Homo sapiens: one gene and its partners. The protein of the gene in region 3 purifies or fractionates together with the protein of the main gene of each other region. This does not show direct contact. Each region holds a gene or a part of one and is shown on either strand. Other genes may lie near its edges.

Region 1 (6,974 bases), on a different chromosome or scaffold from region 3:
TTTAAGTATCGGATTTTAACTGTTACTCTTTGGGTTTTGACCAATTCTCTTGATGCTCTACTGGTCCCCTTTCTCCACCTTTGCCTCCCTTGGAATTCATCTTCAATTTAACATTGTAACTGAATGAAAAAAATGATGTTATAGATAATCGTATAACCAGTTTCCTAATGGGGTATACATGCATACATAGCTATAGGCTTTCATCACTTAAATTCTCAGTTATATGAAGGCTTTCATTTTACATTTATTGTCTTGCCCAATTTCCTTTTATTGTTTACCTAAAAGTGAACCTTAGAGGTCTCCTGGGAGGTTGTGATTAGCCGCCACATTCAAGGTTGTAACTTCAGTTGGCTGAGGGTTTCAAATAATTCCATTTATTACCTTGGGATTTACTTGAATGCCTGATCTGAAAACCAGTCCCTTCAAATAGTTCTGGATATTTTGCAGTGCTGCATAAGCATGCCAATATATGTATTTTTAATTTTTAGTTAAAATGGTACCTGCATTTTACTGACAGTGTCAAAGTAGAATATTTTGCCTAAAATCACAGATGAGCACCCTCCCCTCCAAACTGAGTATGAATTAAGATAAAATGTAAATTGTTAATTAAGTCATGGAAGTTTACAGCATTTCAGTGTATGGGAAACTACACTTAGGCCCCAAATCATTCCACTGGAATTAGAACTTCTTCTGATGAGATATGGTACCTGCTTATACTAATTTTGTCGTTATTTGTTGCGGTGGTTGGCTCCTGTCTTGTATTAATTCACAAACCTTGAGTATTTTCTTAGTTTTAATGCAGTGCCTCTCTCCATAGAGAGTCATCTCCCAAGGGTACTCTGTTTACTGCCACCTTTTTATGATTTTATATTGCATCAAGCAATTCCAAACTTACAGGGTGTTGATGTGAAAGGCTTCCTCTGGTCTTGTAGAAACCTAGCCCTGTTTAGAAGTATGTTTGGCTTATGGAAGACATTAAAATCAGAAAGGGACAAAAACAAACCCTCTGTGTAAAATTGATTGTCTCAATCTCAAAGCACTGATAGTAATAGTAGAAATAGTAGTGATAAAAAATAGAATAATCAAAAAGTCAAGAAAAAAGGAGACAAAACCTGCTCTCTTAGATCTAAACGACTAAATGTTTAAATTGCATGTGTTACTTAAGAACGCTACCAAGTTTATCTAGAAGACTGCAATGAGAAGGAATTCAAATAATGAAACCGAGGGTCTTTTGCGTGTTGAAAACTTCCAAAGAACTTTAACCTTTCAATGATCAATGGCCAATTTGAGTCTCTAGTATTTCTGCTAGAAATAGAACCGTAATCTTTAGTAATAATTAAAATATTACTGTAAACCTGATACATCTCATTAAACACATGACTTTTAATTTGTGCCTTTTCTAAAGTTGTCAAAGTATGTCTGTTCTTCAATTTCACAATTACTGATTACAGCATGAATGAATAATCTGCCTTTCTTTTTTTATATTTCAGATTTCTTAAATTTGAAACATCAAAATATCTGTGCAATGTTTTATTGCTGAAAACCCCAAATTGCTCTGCAAATAAAAAGGCCTTGATAATGTGGGCACAGCTACATACAAGGGGTAGCTTGGCCTTAGGATTTTTAACGTAATTAGAGCCATTTGAAAATAAAACATCCTTTACAGCCAAACTTATTCACCTGGAAATTTCAATCACAATAAGTTATCAGAGGCAAGCTATTTCAACAGATAGTTTAACAGCCATTTCAGTCAAAACACCTGTTGAATACAATTTGGGATTTCTCTTTTTAAAAACTGGTAAATACAAACATTTCTGTCAGTGCTGTTTTATTCTTTTTTGATACTTCTACTTTTGGTTGAGGCGTTTTCTGCCTTTGCTATTTCTTCTCAATTGTCCTTTTTTTGCCCCTTATTACTTTCTTCCCACAACAGTATCGATGTAGCAAAAACATTTTGATGCCTTTTAAAAATGTCTCGTGGCTGCCTATATCCCAATCTATTATGTTAGAGTCATATCACTGCATTTTGAAAGCAATGATCATCACAACTTCTTAGCATTTTAACCCTGTACAATTTGAAATTGAAACAGTATGAAGAGATTCAAAGGGCAGTTCTTAAACCTGGTTGATGAAATGAGAAAAGAAGAAAATATGTTGTAGAAAGAGGCAGAAAAATCCAATTTAGGGTATCTGTAACTAAATAAGGGAGCAAAAAGAACCCACACATTTCTCGTTGATCCTGCTAAGTACAACTAGGGCTGAATAAAATTCAGTAAGTTTCCAACATTATTTATATTTTAGAAGAATATCAGAGAAGTTACCATAAGCCATGTAGTTGGTAACGTTTTGTAAAGAAACGAAACCTGGATTTCACTTTATGAATAACTAACAGCCTCCAGAGAAGAGGAGCACAGGAAAGGAAATATCTTGGTTTTAGAGAATGAATAGCTTGACAAGGAGTCTTAAAACAACTTTGCTAGGCCAGGAGCGGTGGCTCACGCCTGTAATCCCAGAACTTTGGGAGGCCGAGGAGGGCGGATCACGAGGTCAGGAGTTCGAGACCAGCCTGGCCAATATGGTGAAACCCTGTCTCTACAAAAAAAAAAAAAAGTATGTATATGTGTGTATATATATGTATATATATGTATATGTGTGTATATATATATGTATATGTATACATAAATTAGCCAGGCATGGTGGCGCGCACCTGTTGTCCCAGTTACTCGGCCGAGGCAGGAGAATCGCTTGATCCCCGGAGGCGGAGGCTGCAGTGAGCCGAGACTGTGCCACTGCACTCTAGTCTGGGCGACAGAGTGAGAATCTGTCTCAAAACAAACAAAAACAACTTTGCTAAGGCGATCTAACCACCATATGCTGTGTGGAAAAGACCATTCCTTTTCCCTGGAATGTACCCTGCTTAGACATTTTGTTCTATAAGCTCTTAGTACGTTTGGGACGCTTGATGAGTGGGGGAAGTGGAATCTTGTTTAGGACTGGAGCTCCAATCACTGGACCTTCAAAGCCAATGGAAGAGGAAGGAAAATGCACGTTCAAGAATGCAAACCCTCGCCCTTTCCTCATATTCCGTGATGACTGTTTTGAGTCCTAAACAAACATTTCCTATCAATTTTAGCGGGGAGTAGGGCCAGGGCAATCTCGACACTAAGGGACGGGGACACAGACAAGTCTCTTCCAGGACAGTGGCGGAAGTGCCATAAAATGAGGTGTCCATCTGCCACCCACAGAGCAAGTCTCTCTGTTTCCCAAAGTGTTCACAGGCTCACTACGCTTCCTGAATGTCAGTGCGAGTTAGCAACCAGAACTCTGATCTGAGTATGATCTCGGACGCTTGTTCCTCTGCGCGCTGGGTAGGGGAAAATTTACACCAAGCGCACTTAGGTGGGCTAAAGGGCTGAGCTGTTTACTTCTGAACTCGCTAGCGTCTTTCTCCCGGAAGCTAGGCGAAGCCATCTATTAGCCCCCGCAGAGTTTGGGAGAGATGCGCAAGTGGAATTGGAGCTGCCACCTCACTTTCCACGATCTAACCCGGTGTAAGGTGGCGGAAGGGGCATGGGGAGGCACGTTCAGGAGTCGCGCTTTGCGTTTCCACCCCGACACCAGCGGAGCGCGGAGCGGATGGGTTCACAGCATAGGCCACTTTGAGAACTCTGCGTGACATCTGGGAGTTCTCTCGTCTGGCAGAGAGGCAAGAAGCAGAGGCACCACACCGCCCCCTTCTCGGACTGGATCTCTGTTCTTGGTCGAGCCTGGACCCACTCAGGTAGTCGGACGCCGGCCAGGGAGTCTCCACCTCCTCACCAGCGGCAGCCATTCGGAGCGCTCGGGCGCAGAAGGGCTGGGGCCCATTGGCTGTGGGACGCTGCCAGTCTCCGGAGGGGGTGTGGTGGGGGTGGGGTCTGGGGCCGCAGCGGGTCGGGGCTGCTCACTGTTTGTTGAGCTTGAGCGTGAGCCGGCTGCTGAAGACTTGCGAACAGTTCGGAGCCAGCGAGAGCGCGCCAGAGAGAGCGAGAGTGAGGGAGTGAGTGCGAGGGGATCTAGAGGAGTCAGGGCGAGAAAGCGAGGGCCGGAGGACCCACGATAGAGACAGAGTGACCATGGCTGTCTCCGCATCTCCAGTGATCTCTGCAACTTCCAGCGGCGCCGGCGTCCCGGGGGGCTTATTCCGGGCCGAACCCCTGTACTCGACTCCCAGAGAGCCCCCTCGTCTTACTCCTAATATGATCAATAGTTTCGTGGTTAATAACCACAGCAACAGTGCCGGAGGCGGCGGCAGGGGCAACACCAACACCAACGAGTGCCGCATGGTCGACATGCACGGGATGAAGGTGGCTTCGTTCCTGATGGACGGCCAGGAACTGATCTGCCTGCCGCAAGTCTTTGATCTTTTTCTCAAGCACCTGGTGGGAGGCTTGCACACTGTGTACACCAAGCTGAAGAGACTGGATATATCCCCCGTGGTGTGTACTGTTGAGCAGGTCCGGATCCTCCGCGGGCTGGGGGCCATCCAGCCCGGGGTAAACCGCTGCAAACTCATCACCAGGAAAGACTTCGAAACTTTGTTCACCGATTGCACCAATGCCAGGTGAGACACTCGTTTCTTGGCTCTCCCACTTCTCTTACCCCTTTGGCCTCTTCTGCATGCCTCACCACCCTCATCCAACTTTGTTTGTAGAGTGAGTCTTAACTAGTTTGCCTCTATTCTTCACGCTGTAAATCGGTGGGGAAAGAGGACTAGAAGCTTTCATTAATGCTGGTGCCTTCTAGTCCACGCTCAGTGCAAGGGCTTCGGTCTAAAAAAGTCCCGCAAACTTGAGTTTGCAGTCCTCTATTGAAACTTTCCAGCCTTTTGCCCATATCTTGCATGGCTTTTGGCTGTTCGTGGTTATTTGTTAATTTCTCTATTTGGTTTTCTTTCCTGCTCTTTTGTGGCCGCACGGGTCGGATAGGTTTTCTTCTGAACACGGATACCAAGGGCTTTCTCTGGGGGCTGGCTGAGCTGTAAACTGGGCTCCTAAGCTGGCAAGCCAGAACACAGCATTTGGGGCATGCAGGGGGTGGGAAGTCTAGAATCCATCCCAGAGGGTGATTCGATCCCCATCCCGTGTGTTTGTTGTGAGAATGTGTGGGGTGTGTGGTGTTGTTGTTTGTGGTGGTGTTGGTGTGTATGTGTGCAAGTGCGCGTGAGAACGTATGCTCATGCTTGCTGCGCAAAGCTCCCCAGTACACGATACAGGAAAGTCGATGGATACTATTTTTACAAAAGGACGACGACAAATATCACTTTCCTGGGATCGTCCGTTTTGGGTTATCTGCAGAGGGCAATGTGGGGCATGAACCACTGTGGCTGGGACTGGATTGGAGGTTGGTGTACAAGTTGGCAGATTTCTAGAGAGGATGCTCTCAGCTCTTCCAGGCGAACAGTTGGAAGGATCCCATTCCCTTAAAGACAGGATTCCTTAAATGATGATGGCCAGCTTCCCTGGTTGTAAGTGTACCTCCTTCATATCACAGTTTAGAAGTACACTAGTGAATAAATGTCCATTTGTATATGAGAAGCAAATTGTGTTCAATGTTTCTGAGTTTAAAAAGAAAAAAAGTATACTCAAGATTATCTGACTTTTTAAACGCCTGTGAATTAGTCTTCTAGTGTTTATTCCATCTCCAGTTTGGTAACATCTCAGGAAAGCACAGATTTGGCACAAAAATCACCATCACGTGGTTAAAAGGAGCAAAGGATTTTGTTGTAAAACAGCACTACTGCTTATTATTTTGCAAAAATAAAATAAAAAACCAACAACTTTCTCAAAATGAACTTTAAATCATAAAATCTCTGGGTCTGTGAACTAAAACTGTAACAGTTTGCCACATCTGTTGTAAAATCCAAATTGCCATGTATAGTTGAATGATACTGACAACTTGTAGGCAAACTGTTGCTTACTGCTGCAATAAGATAATGCTGCAGAACTTACAAGGGAAGCTTTTTCCTTCTTCTTTTTTTTCTTCAATTGAGCAGTGTTTTTCTGTGTTCAAGCAATTAAACAGAAAACTATTTATGTGAGAACTCCTACCTGATTCATATTTAGGGCTTACAAAGCTGGTTTATTATATCAGCTTTTCTTAAGGAAGATAGATGGCCTGAAAACACAAAGGATAACAGCTCCCTCAATAAAACAGGCAATTATGGATTGTAAGAGTAAAAAGACAATTTTATTTCGACTACAAAGCATTTTATTAGTACACAAACTAAAAAGGTTACAAGGGACTTCAGATAGTGGCCATCTAATTCATTTGTTGCCATCCAAAAACACTCAAACATTTAAATAATTGCAGACATGAAAACCTATTCTCTTATTAACTCTCTCTCTTTATCAGTCTCTCATCTCTCCATCCCTGTTCTTTCTCTCTTCCCCCTCTCCCATCTCTAAAAATGCCCATTCTTAAAGTGGAACAATTATTACACTTAGGAAATTCTTCCTTCCTCAATTAATTTGCACATTCTTGAGAAAAACCTATGACCATGATTTTCAAATAAATAGATTAGTATTTTAATATGATTTTGATACTTTTCTCTATAAATGGAAACTTTTCCTAATTTTTATTAGAGCTACTTACTAAAAAAAAAAATCCAGAGGCAGGTGATCTTGTAATATTTTTGGACCCTGTTATACCATGTATTTTTAGGTTATTATTTTATCTAATTAGCTTTTATTTACTGCTTATCACAGCAATAGTAACTTTTCATGTGTGTGAATTGCTTTTGTGTATGTGTGTGTATAAAGGTGATAGAGAAATATTAAATATGTAGGAAGAAATAGATCTGTGATGTGATTCATGTGGCTTCTATTGCATTTTCTTTTCTTTACGGGTATTTGGTTTATTATATTCATATTTTAAAACTGTGTTACAAGTATTGCAATTTTATTAATTGTAAAAATTTATGAAGTATATTCTAT
Region 2 (7,217 bases), on a different chromosome or scaffold from region 3:
AAAATGACCCTTGAGATCCTTGAGAGTGATTATGTAAACATATCCTTGATTTGGTGTCTCCAGCCTAATTATCACAGTTAAAATTTTGGTATTAAAAATGGAGCAAAGATAATAAGACTTGTAAAGCAGCAGACCTTACAAAATGTTAAAAACAATTTTATTTACGTAGTGCCTCCACACAGACCTAATTATATGTATTAAACCTAATGTTTAACATTATTAGCGAGTCAGAGAATTTAGAAAAATCAGACATAATTTTAGATAAAATAAATATTAATACTAGTCATTAATATTAATCCCTGTTTGATAAAATGACTCTATATGAAAATAACTGCCCTCAAATTACTTTCATCTCACATATTTTTAATGAAAGGAAATGGTGGCTGGGGGCAGTGGCTCACACCTGTAATAACAACACTTTGGGAGGCCAAGGCCGCAGATCACTTGAGATCAGGAGTTCAAGACCAACCTGGCCAACCAGGTGAAACTCCATCTTTACTAAAAATACAAAAGTTAGCTGGTTGTGGTGGTGGGTGTAATCCTAGCTACTCGGGAGGCTAAGGCAGGAGAATCACTTGAACACAGGAGGTGGAGGGTGCAGTGAGCCAAGATCGTGCTACTGCACTTCAACCTTTGCAAGAGATCAAAACTCTGTCTCAATAAATAAATAAATAAATAAATAAATAAATAAGGAGATGGTATGGAATCATTATTAATGTTGGGCCCCTCATGTTAGCTAATATGTTTAAACCTAGGTCAAGATAGAAACTGACCCAGATTATTAGCATGTTTCAGTGCATAATATTTTAAAATAATTCAACACTGACACATAATACTATGCTATTCCACTTAGATATAAAAAAATGGCAAGAGAAGTCTCATGTTCTTGTCCCGGCATGGTGACTTACACCTGTAATCCTAGCACTTTGGGAAGCCAAGTGGGGAGGATCCCTTGAGGCCAGAAGTTTGAAACCAGACTGGGCAACATAGTGAGACCTATCTCTACAGAAAATTTAAAAACTAGATGGGCGTTGTGGCAAGCACCTGTAGTCCCAGCTACTGGGGAGGCTGAGGTGGGAGAATTGCTTTTCCCAGGAGTTCCAGGCTACAGGGAGCTATGATCACATCACTGCACCCCAGCCTCCGTAATACAGTGAGACCCTGTCTCTTAAACAAAAACAAAAAATAATCCCAGAATTCTAATGTTCTTATATGATACAGGACTTTTAAAAATTAGCCAGGCATGGTGGCCCATGCCTGTAGTCCCGGCTACTTGGAAGGCTGAGGCACGAGAATCACTTGAGCCTGGGAGGCGGAGGTGGCAGTGAGTCGAGATCACGCCACTATACTCCAGCCTGGATGGTAGAGTGAAACTCTGTCTCAAAATAAATAAATGAGTGAAAGTACACCGAAAGTTTTAACTTAACAAATTTTATTTACGCCTCACATTGATGGAGTGACAAGAACAAATAAGTAATACTAATGAAGGTATAGGATATTTTACAATTTTTTAAAAATTAGACCCTTATATACACAAAGTAATTGAATTTTTTTTTTTTTTTTTTTTTTTTTTTTTTTGAGACGGAGTCTCGCTCTGTCACCAGGCTGGAGTGCAGTGGTGCGATCTCGGCTTGCTGCAACCTTCGCCTCCTGGGTTCAAGCAATTCTCCTGCCTCAGCCTCTCGAGTAGCTGGGACTACAGGCACGCGCCACCACGCCCGGCTAATTTTTTGTATATTTAGTAGAGACGGGGTTTCACCATGTTGGCCACGATGGTTTCCATCTCTTGACCTCGTGATCCACCTGCCTGGGCCTCCCAATGTGCTGGGATTACAGGTGTGAACCACCACGCTCAGCTGCAAAGTGATTTAAATTTATCAACAATTTTAATGCAAAATTTTTGTCATTTGTGATATTTTCCAATAGCTTATCCGAATTCCTTAGAATCAGATTTCAAAATAAGATTCCCAAGTCAGATTTCTTTGAAATTACAATCCGAAAATATTTAGATTTTAGAAAGGTAATGTGGTAAATATTCTGCCTATTATGGAATAACTCTAATGGCAAATCATATGAATAATCACATGAACTGGGATCAATAAGACTATAAATACCCCTGGTCGGGTGCGGTGGCTCACACCTGTAATCCTAGCACTTGGTGAGGTTGAGGCGGGTGGATCACAAGGTCAGGAAGTCGAGACCATCCTGGCTAACACGGTGAAATTCCGTCTCTACTAAAAATACAAAAAATTAGCTGGGCGTGGTGGCAGGCACATGTAGTCCCAGCTACTCGGGAGGCTGAGGCAGGAGAATGAATGGCGTGAACCCAGGAAGTGCAGCTTGCAGTGAGCCAAGATCAAGCCACTGCACTCCAGCCTGGGCGACAGAGCGAGACTCCGTCAATTCACTAGGGATAAAAGTCAGAAGAACAGAAATTGTGAGTTCCTTTGTGAAGATCCAAGGACCTTCAAGGACCTCTGAATAGCCAAGAATAATCATTCCTGTTTTTCATCTTCAATGGATAAAAGAGCCCATTATACCTTTCTAGCCTATTCTGGAATAAGTAACAATGAAATTTTATTTAGTGTAAACTAACAAAGAAAACAGAGTAAGTTAATGAAATGTAGTCTCTACAACTTGTTAGACTGTTTATTTTTTATTTGTTTTTTATTTTTAGTTGGACTTTGTTTTTGAGACGGAATCTCGCTCTGTCACCCAGTCTGGAGGGCAAGGGCTTGATCTCGGCTCACTGCAACCTCTGCTTCTCAGGTTCTAGTGATGCTCCCTGCCTCAGTCTCCCTAGTAGCTGGGATTACAGGCGCACACCACCACGCCCAGCTATTTTTAGTAAAGACAGGGTTTCGCCATGTTGGCCAGGCTGGTCTCCAACTCCTGACCTCAGGTGATCTGCCCGCTTCAACCTCCCAAAGTGCTGGGATTACAGGCTTGAGTCACGGCACCAGGCAACATGCTAATTTTTGTATGTGTGGTAGAGACGGGGTTTCACTCCATGTTGGCCAGGCAGGTCTCCACCTCGATCTCAGGTGATCCACCGGACTCGGCCTCCCAAAATACTGGGATTACAGGCCAGAGTCACCGCGACCGGCCTGCGTCCATGTTACTTAAAGTACAAAGTAACCTACAAAGTAACCCGCCAGGCGCGGTGGCTCACGCCTGAAATCCCAGCATTTTCAGAGGCCGAGGCAGGCGAATCACCTGAGGTCGGGAGTTGCCGAGACCAGCCTGACCAACATGGAGAAACCCCGTCTCTACTAAAAAAAAAAAAAAAAAAAAAAAAAAAAAAAATTAGCCAGCATGGTGGCACATACCTGTAATCCCGGCTACTCAAGAGGCTGAGGCAGGAGAATCGCTTGAACCTGGGAGGCGGAGGTTGTTGCAGTGAGCCGAGATCGCACCATTGCACTGTAGCCTGGGCGTCAAGAGCCAAACTCCGTCTCAAGAAAAAAAGATTACATCCTGGCACGGTGGTTCATGCCTGTAGTGGCAGCAGCGGTGGCAACCCCAGAACCTGTCCGTGCCACCAGCAGCGGGGAACCCCAGGGTCGGACGCCGCCACTGCGCCTAAATCAGGCGGTGGGACCTCAGCTGTGTGAGGGCGGGAACCTGCCGCAAAGCCTCATCCTGGCAACTATACATGGCCCAGAGGTCGCGAGCCTGCGCTGCCAGCGCGGGCCAAGGAAGAGCAGAGCCCAGGGTGGAAGGGCGGTGCACTCGGCGACCCTCAGCGGTCTGGGCCCAGCCCTGCAGCCTCCACCGTGGACTCAGGTGCAGCTCCCACCTGAACATGGCACGCGGCAGCGGGGGCTCCAACCCGGACCCTGTCCGTGCCAGCAGCAGGGCGGATACTTGGGCCAGAAGCTTCCAGGGCGCCTAAGTGAGGGGGTCGGTCCCCAGCTGCAGGAGGGCGGGAATCGACGCTCAGCGCGGCCCTGGAGGCTGCACGGTGCCCAGTACCAGGGTCCAGCTCCTGGATCGCGGGTCGAGGAGGGGCCAGGGGCGGCTATGTCAAGCAGGCCGTGTTGCAGGGAGCCCCACACGTTCCGCTCCAGGGAGGCCCGCCAGCCCGGCAGCGCCTCAGCGGCCGGTGCCACCTGCACGCGGTGCCCGGTGGAGCGCGGCCAGGGCGCGTGTCTCCTCAGCCTGCTGAGCTGCGCGTGAGCTGCTGCTGTAACGCTCTAACGTTAGAGCAGCTAACGGCTCTGCTCAGAATTTCTCCCGACAGAGGCCGGAGTGTTCAAGAGCTTGGCGATACAGAAATTTCTGCTGGTGTTGGGGCGGGTGCGGGAACTGAAGACGGGCGAGTGCGAGCCGGGGGCGGGTGCTGGGGAAGGGTAAGCGGGAAGCGAGGGCGAGGGGTAGGGGCTGGGGAAGGGCGAGCGGGAGGCGCGGGCTCTCTCTAGCAGGGGGCTGCAGCCATGAAGAGGCTCTTAGCTGCCGCTGGCAAGGGCGTGCGGGGCCCGGAGCCCCCGAACCCCTTCAGCGAACGGGTCTACACTGAGAAGGACTACGGGACCATCTACTTCGGGGATCTAGGGAAGATCCATACAGCTGCCTCCCGGGGCCAAGTCCAGAAGCTGGAGAAGATGACAGTAGGGAAGAAGCCCGTCAACCTGAACAAAAGAGATATGAAGAAGAGGTACCAGGCCCTGCCTGAGCCGGGGCTGCAGGAGGAGGAGGCGGCTGTGGGAGGATCGCCCCTTCAGAGTGGTGGCTGGGGGTCCTGGGGACGAGGGGAGCAGGTGGAGGAGTGGCGGGCGATGGGGCGGCCGTCCTGGGCCCCGAGGTCTTGGCCTTCTTCCCGGTCAGGCCCCCCAGGCCTGGGATGGGGGCGCCCTGCAGGGCAGAGGGCACAGGCCACCTTAAAATCAACCCCAAGCTTTAGCTGCTTTCTCCTTCACTCCCACTTCCCCTCACAAAGCACTCTGTAGAAAATTTTAAAGTGATTAAACTCACAAAATTAAGTACATACAGGGTTTTACTTTTAATGTACAGGTTTTAAAAGATAATGTTAGATACACTATGAAATGGTGCATAATGAACTAATTCCCATAATATATGACCTTCTTGGCTAAAAATTCTTTGGATAAAGTCCAATGTCCATTTTGATATCAATGAATGTCTATGTAAATATGTTCTTTGCTGAGGGACCTTAGAAGGAAACTTCGAGGTGGGAAGATAGTTTATGTTCTTGAATTTAAGAAGACTCATTTTTCTCAAGATGCGACTTACCAGTTTTACATAAACCAAATAAAGCTATTAACGTTTTAACATTTTTTAAATTACACAGGCTTTTACTGTTGTGATGACATTTTAAATATTTTGTAATGGAGTAGAAAAGTCTTGCCCTTCTAGATATCAAAATGCGCTATTAATTTGCACAAAATGGGCCAGGAGCGGTGGCTCACGCCTGTAATCCCAGCACTTTGGGCGGCCGAGGCGGGTGGATCATCTGAGGTCAGGAGTTCAAGACCAGCCTGGCCAATATGGTGAAACACCGTCTCTACAAAAATACAAAAATTAGCTGGGCCTGATGTCGGGTGCCTGTAATCCCAGCTACTTGGGAGGCTGAGGCGGGAGAATTGCTTCAACCTGGTAGGTGGAGGTTGCAGTGAGCCGAGATCCCACCATTGCAATCCAGCCTAGGTGACAGAGTGAGACTCTGTCTCAAAAAAAAAAAAAAAAAAAAAAAAAAAAAAAATCACAGATTGTTTGCTAACAGCTGAAAAGACAGGTAAATGAATACAACAGAATAGAAAATCCAGAAACACCCAAACATATGTAAGAATTTAGAACTTGATAATGATCACAAGGATCATTATCCTTGTGGAAAAGAATTAGTTTCATAATTCTTTTAGGAATATGAATTATTAGGAAAAGAATTAGTTTCATAAGTGAAATGCCTGCTTTTTGGAGAAAACTAGATTTTTATGGCACAAAATAAGTTCCTGATGGAATATAGATTAAAAATTTTTAATATACAAAAAGATAAAAATACCAGAAAAAACATAAATGCCTATTTACACAGATACATTTTTATGTTGACAAAACCTTTCTAAGAAGCTCAGAAGCAAGCATTCTGAAGAGTAATTTAGTAAAACAAAAATTAAATCACCCTGCATATGAGAAAAAATAAAAGGCAGCATACTTGTAAAATATTTACTACTCATGTATGTGTGTGTGTGTATACATATTAGAATTAAAAATCTTCCTTTTATAGAGAATTCACTCAAATCAACAGAAAACCCTCTAATTTAAAATTGGGCAATTTAAGTTAGAGATCTAAATTGCAGATCTAAAAAAGTACTTGGCCTCTAATTTAAAACTGGGCAAAGTCCTTTTTTAAGATCTGCAAGTAACCTATGCACACAGGAAACAATATTAGTGTTCCTGGTTAGAGAAGGCATTTAAGTTAAAAGAGGAATCAAATACTGTTTTCTATCCACAAAGTTTGTGAGGATAAAAAGCAGTGATATTTATAGTACTCCTTAAAGTGTAAGTTGCAGATGAGTTTTCAAATAAACAATTTGATGGTAAGTACCATATTTAAAAAATTGTATATGCCCATTAGTGATCCATTCTATTATACTAAAATATTTTTAGAAAATAATGCAACATACACACAATTTCTTTTCTGAGCACTGCTTAAAATATCAATGTATTAAAAAGAATCCATTTAATGGCTTTTATAAATACATTTCAGTGAGTTTACAGCATGGGATAATATGTGACCACTCAAGGTAGAAACATATACGGAAGTATGTTGACATTTGAAAATGTATTTTGGTGTACCAAGTGAGGGTAAAATTCAGTTTGATTATACATACAGACTATGGTCTTGTGTTATCTGAAATTATGTCCAAAATTTGATAACATTTGCTATTTGAGGATACTTGTTTTAATATAAAATGTTTTTCCTTTTTTTATCTTTGATTTCTGCATTGAGCATGTACGATGCTATTAGTAAAAGTTTATTATTAATGAAATAATTTTTGGGAGGAGCAGCAATATGTATTTTGCACAGATGAAAATAATTTCTCACTTTCTATATTTTATTTTTTTGTGCATTTGTATATTCTGTGAACTTTTAGCATCTTCAGAAGAGAATATTTTTATCTCTGCTTATTGATTTACATATACATTTTATTAAACACATTTTTATTATATATAGGCTTATTACATATATGTCAATAACTATA
Region 3 (5,765 bases):
CTGTGCAAGTCCTGAGACAGAGAATTGCAGCCTATCAAACTCTTCCCTTTAGAATCAAGGGAGAAACCTTGGGATGTCTCCTAGAATGTTCTAATGTGGGCTCTTGAGTCACTAAACAGACATTCTCTTCTGGGATGCAGTGGTCAAATATGGAGAACTCAGCTTTCCCAATAGCCAGGTGACCTTAAGCAAATCCTTGAATCTCTTTGGGCCTTTGTTCTCTCAACAGTTAACTCAGGAAGAGTTAGATTCATCTCTAAATCAGTGTTTCCTAAAATTGTTACACAGAACTGCCAGAAAACTAGAAAATTGTTACATGAAAGCTCTACAATGCACGTGAACATATTAAAAGCTCCCAGAAATTCTACAGGGAAGAAACCTATTTAACTTTGTTTGGCCCACTGTTTTGCTTCCCAGTTTATTTGACTGTGGTACATTTTTTTTTTTCGTGGTGTATTAGTCCGTTCTTTCACTGCTATAAAGAAACACCTGAGACTGCATAATTCATAAAGAGGTTTAATTGGCTCACAGTTCTGCAGGCTGCACAGCAAGCATGATGCTGGCATCTGCTCAGCTTCTAGGGAGGCTTCAGGAAACTTACAATCATGGTGGAAGGCAAAGGGGGAGTGAGCACTTTACATGGCCAGAGCAGAAGGAAGGTGGGGGGAGGTGTCACATATTTTTAAACAACCAGATCTCACAAGAACTCACTATCATGACAACAAAGGGCGGATGTTGTTAAATCATGAGAAAACTCCCCCATGATCCAATCTTCCCACCAGGTCCCACCTCCAGCATTGGGGATTACATTTCAACATGAGATTTGGGTGGGGACACAGAGGCAAACCATATCACATGGCTTGTGCACATTTGGAGCAGTACTAGTCTCCATGAAGTCTACATATGGATTCAGCTTTCCTTGTATAGCTTCCACACACATGCATACACACCCACAGACACACACAAATGCTAACACACACGGAGAGAAAAAAGATGACTTGGGACTCTTAGAGGAACAATTTTTCTGTTATCACTGTCCTTTTTACTTTGCTAAGATCTTACCGTGTTAGAGGTGGAAGAGAAAAGAGAGATCCTCCAATGTCTCTGACCCTACCCGTCATTTTAGGCGCATGTAGAGAGAGAACATGATGTGCCAAATGCCACACAACTTGTCAGTGGCAGAGCAGGGATGGGAGTGAGGCTTCTCAACTCTCTTCCCTCTTTTCATGGGAAAAGAAGGTGCCTTTTGGTGGTGCCACCTGCTTTGGACACTCATTCTGGGGTAGATGTAGCTAAAGGTATCTTTCAGTTTTCTGCATGAAGATATAATATCTGGAGTACCTCTGGATATGGGCATTATCAAGATGTCAGTCAGTTTAAGTCCATAAATTTGAACATCTACTCTGTCAGGCGACTTTGTCATCATTAGTAATATAGGAGCAAACGACTAATACAACCTTCAAAGAGTTACAGACATCAACCTTATGAACAAGTAAATACATACGGTAATTTGAGGTACTTACCGTTGATATGAAAAAGTACATGGGGATGTGGTACAGAGGGCTATGAAACAGCCATGGGGAGCATCTAGAGGTGAGCAGAGCAGCTCAGTGAGGGGCAACATGAAGGTGGCTCCATCTACTGAATCTCTAACAGGACTCCAGCACAACAGTCAGAAGCTACCATTTCTAAGTGCTTACTATGTGTCAGGCACTGTACTAAGCCCTGTAGACCATCTGCTCATTTAATTGTTCAGAGTTAGTAAAGAACAAAGCCAGTACTAAAACCAAGTCTGTATGCTTCTAAAACCTAGTATCAGGAGCAAGCTTGTCCCATTTTCCAAAGACAGAAGACGGCACATTGCTCTTTTTTGTGAAGATGCAACACTAGGGTCAAGTGGTTCACAATGTTAACAGTTTCCTCCCAACAATTTAGTCTAAATTTTACTTTTCACTCCATTCCATTACTCTTAGGTCTACCCTCTAGAGACCCTTCTGTTCCCCAATTACACACATAAAATCAATTACATTGTATTATCTGATGCCAGTTGTGTTTATACTGTAGAAGGCAGAAAAGTGTTTTTATGAGTGGAGATTGTTTTTCCATTCTGTTCCTTCCCAGGGGGGATCTAAATACTCTTTTTGAAGTTAGACATTGTGTGTGGTTTTGGAGCTGAGTTGGGAAGAGGATGGATACGCACCACACCTTATTTATTTTCTCTTCTGTGAAACAGTCTCAGCTGTTTTTTTTTCTCACAAATTCAATTTCTTACTCTTGAAGAATGACCCAAGCTGAGAAATTTCCCAAACATCTGAAATCTGAGAATTTGTGCCTGGAATCCATGAGGCTCATGGTTTCCAGATGGAAAGGCCGGAAGAATAGGAGGCGGAGGAGTAGAGGCAGGGTGGAGTGATAAAAGGGAGGGGGAGCCTGAACTTTGGATCACTTCTGACTGCCTTGTGAACTAGGCCAGGTCCCTTATTTGCTCTGCAAGTCTGCCATTTGACAATGGGCCAGGTCTGAAGATAGACAGCAGTTTTGCATGTCCTCATGAGGCTGTTTCAGTGATTATTAGAAGTAAGTCATTGTAAAATTGTCTTTTTCTGAAGGCAGTGACTGAAAGCAAACAAGCCCATGACTTGGCTATTCAGAGGGGCATAAACACTCCAGATGGATTTTCTCATTGTCCCAGAAATGGCAAAAGACAGACCATTCTAGGAATCCTGGCTTCTTTATACCACTTAAACATATGCAATGGCAGATGCCCCGGTGACCTAATTCTTCCACGTCTTGTCCTCATAATAGAGGTAAGAGAAAGAGATTAACAGGAAAGCTTGTTTTGAGTACATAACAGTCAAGTATAATTTGGCCACAAGTGGGCTAGGTATACTCTCAGAGGAATGCCTTTATTTGATCAGACAGGTCAGAATCTTCCAGGGAAAATATTAATTTGGGGAAAATAGATCAGAACCTACTTGTTATCAAATGGGAAATTGGCTTGAGTGTTGAGAAATACCCATTTTTATTGTTATCAGTGGTTTGTCATCCTCCCCACCTGAAACTACCCTACTGACACTCCCTATTGCCCTACTATCACCAAGTCAAAGAGCAATCTTGTTCCTCTATCATAGTTCTTCCTACTTAGAAGCTGAATTTCATACTAGGATACAGCCATCCAACTGGGTCTAAAAGGTCTCATAATGTGTGGAGAGAAACCAAATATAGAAAAGTTACTTCCAATTAACACCTCTAATCTCCAGATGTCCTAATAAAAACAGTGAGGCAACAAATGGCCACCCTCAAGCCAGAGAACCATACTTGGACTCAAATGTTTTTAAGAGCCAGGGAAAGTAGCTAACCTCCTCTTAATTTGATCTCCTGGCCTGGGACATATAAATGTTTAACTACACTCTGGCTTAGGGAGGAAAGCAAGCAGAGGTGAATGTATCCTGTAGTGGCATGGCTTCAACAGAGCATTTGTCTCACCCTGAAATATGAAGGAGCAATGCCTGCCTCCTCAAGCTGAGCAGTGCCCAGAATTTATGAACTTCAAGTATGATGTGAATCTGGGGTCCGAGCCAGGCATTATCATTGGGAAGTGGTGGACAATTTCCCTCTCCCTCCCTCCTCGTTTTCCTACTGCTGATTGTACTGTTCAGAAGTGAATCATGATTTAATCCCCTCTGCTGTTAAGAGTATTACAAAATGCTGGTTACAATGAAGTCACAAAAGTATTTACATAAAAGAAAAAAGACGGACAGAGAATGTTATAGCAAGTGACAAAACTCATCATTACCACCAGCAAAAAGATAGGTATGGAAAAATCCTTGCCTGGGTACCAAATGGGATGCAGCTGATTTAGACCATCTCTATATATAATCAGCGTGGCACATGTTTTTACAGTCATGCAGTGTTGAAAGCAGTGCATCATGGGAGAAAAGATAGTTCTAGTCACATGCATCTGGGTTTTTAAATCTTAGCGTCATCAGATCAGGGCCAGGTTACCCCAGAGTGCTCAATAATCCATGAGAAATGAATCCTATCTTCGTTCCAGGGCTTAGTATTGGCATTACACCATTATTAGATGCAAGCAATTCTTTGATTGATGGCTCCAACATGGATTAAGGTCAAAAGTGGCCCTGGAGACCAAATTCCCTAGTGAGGAACTGCCACATAACTTCATGTGTCTTTTGCTTCTGAATTATTTCTTCTAGAAACCACCAACCACAAGCTGTCACGCTGGTATTATATCTACATAACGTTTATTCTTCTTACAGCAAAGAGCTGGAGAAATACAAGTGAGAACCTGTTATTACAGGTTAAATTGTGTAACACTCAACTTGCGCTGAGGTCCAGTTTCTTTTTATTATGCTCCAATTTTGTTGAATGACTATTGCCTAAAATAAATGGGCAATCGACAGGGGCTTAGAACTAACAGGGATGCTTAAGTGACTTTTATGGTAGCAGTATTTGTTGTAACAGAATTTGATCTGTATTCTAGTTATTAGTTTTATTCATCACATTGGAAAGTTGGCACCTCCACTGTTCATGCCATTATATGCAAAGCACTGTAGCATGAAAGTCACTTACAAAGCTGTGAAAAAAACTCTCTGAACACCAGAGGCTCATGAAACAATAAAAGTCAGCTAGGGGGATATACACTGTTTGATTTAGCTAAATATTCTGGATGGTCAAAGGTTTATTCCTTTTAATTCCTAAAAGTTTTTTTTTTTAACCATTGGGATGTAAATATTTCTAAAATGTTTGATATACATATTTTTGTCTTCTAAGCATAGTTTTTTTATGTATGGTGCACAGGGTCATCATTTTAAATAGAATATTGTCCCATGATACAGTGAGGCTCTTAAAGATTGAGATGTGTATAGACTGTTTTTGACACTAAATAACCCATATATCAGGGCTTTGGAGCTTTGCAGTCTACTCAAAATTTCCATTTTCTCTATTGCTGTCCTCCTTTTTCCTTCTTGTTTCCTCTAAAAGTCTGTTTCTTTCCTTTACAGTTAGAAATATGTGTGAAGGAAGAGCAAATAGGTTCTGAGGAGGTGCCTGATGACTAGATGTATGGCCTTTGTCTTATGCGTTTGCTTCATGGTATTTATTTCAATTGGTTGGAAGCCTTGTTTGCTTACTTCTTAATTCTCAGTCACTTTTGATGGGTTCAGCAGAGGTTCTAGATTTTTCTAGTTCTGTCTCAGTTACTCATTGTCAAACCACTGGTTTAGATTTTGTGTTCAGGAAATAGGGATAGGTAAAGCTATCAGGTGGCTAAGCCCTAGGTAAATGAGTTGCCATGAATCCTAAAATATTGTGAAGGTTGTGGGCCATTTTTATAAGGCAAATGGTATGCTGTGGCCGTGACAGCTGAACTCAGTAAGTGAACTTTAAAACAGATAAGCTCCTTTTGCTGTTGTCCCTTTCCAAGAATATGAAGCTGGCCTGACGTCAAGCTGTTGGAGAGCCTTCAACATGTTTAATTAAATCACAGACTCAGTGTCAGAGCTGGCTGACTTTCAGGATTCTAACGCTATAGCAAAAGAAGACATGGTTTTGCCTCTCGTTGATTTTCTTATTTATGGCCTTGGAATAAAGAAGATAAAGCAAGTCTAACAGTTCTCCCTTCCAAAAGTACAGTTTCAGGCCAGAAGATTTGACTGCTACCCTTAGACTTTCTTTCCCTCACTGTACATTGCATTTTACAGGCTATACAAAGCAAGACCTTCTTTGCAAAAGGCAAACTCCTTTGC

Evidence for each region. The genes of interacting proteins can lie anywhere in the genome.
Region 1: the proteins of TRIM44 (region 3) and DACH2 purify together in Homo sapiens (affinity purification with mass spectrometry; 2 studies listed by BioGRID and IntAct, with this or other methods). This does not show direct contact.
Region 2: the proteins of TRIM44 (region 3) and ANKRD30B purify together in Homo sapiens (affinity purification with mass spectrometry, with the first as the bait; 2 studies listed by BioGRID). This does not show direct contact.

The regions. Positions count from the first base shown.
Region 1 is NC_000023.11:86,144,506-86,151,479, forward strand, and holds the start of DACH2 (dachshund homolog 2), read left to right. Parts: upstream 1-3,945; 5' UTR 3,946-4,115; coding exon 4,116-4,603; intron 4,604-6,974. UniProt on the Homo sapiens protein: Transcription factor that is involved in regulation of organogenesis. Seems to be a regulator for SIX1 and SIX6.
Region 2 is NC_000018.10:14,743,984-14,751,200, forward strand, and holds the start of ANKRD30B (ankyrin repeat domain-containing protein 30B), read left to right. Parts: upstream 1-4,188; 5' UTR 4,189-4,436; coding exon 4,437-4,657; intron 4,658-7,217.
Region 3 is NC_000011.10:35,812,743-35,818,507, reverse strand, and holds the end of TRIM44 (tripartite motif-containing protein 44), read right to left. Parts: 3' UTR 501-5,765; downstream 1-500. UniProt on the Homo sapiens protein: May play a role in the process of differentiation and maturation of neuronal cells. May regulate the activity of TRIM17. Is a negative regulator of PAX6 expression.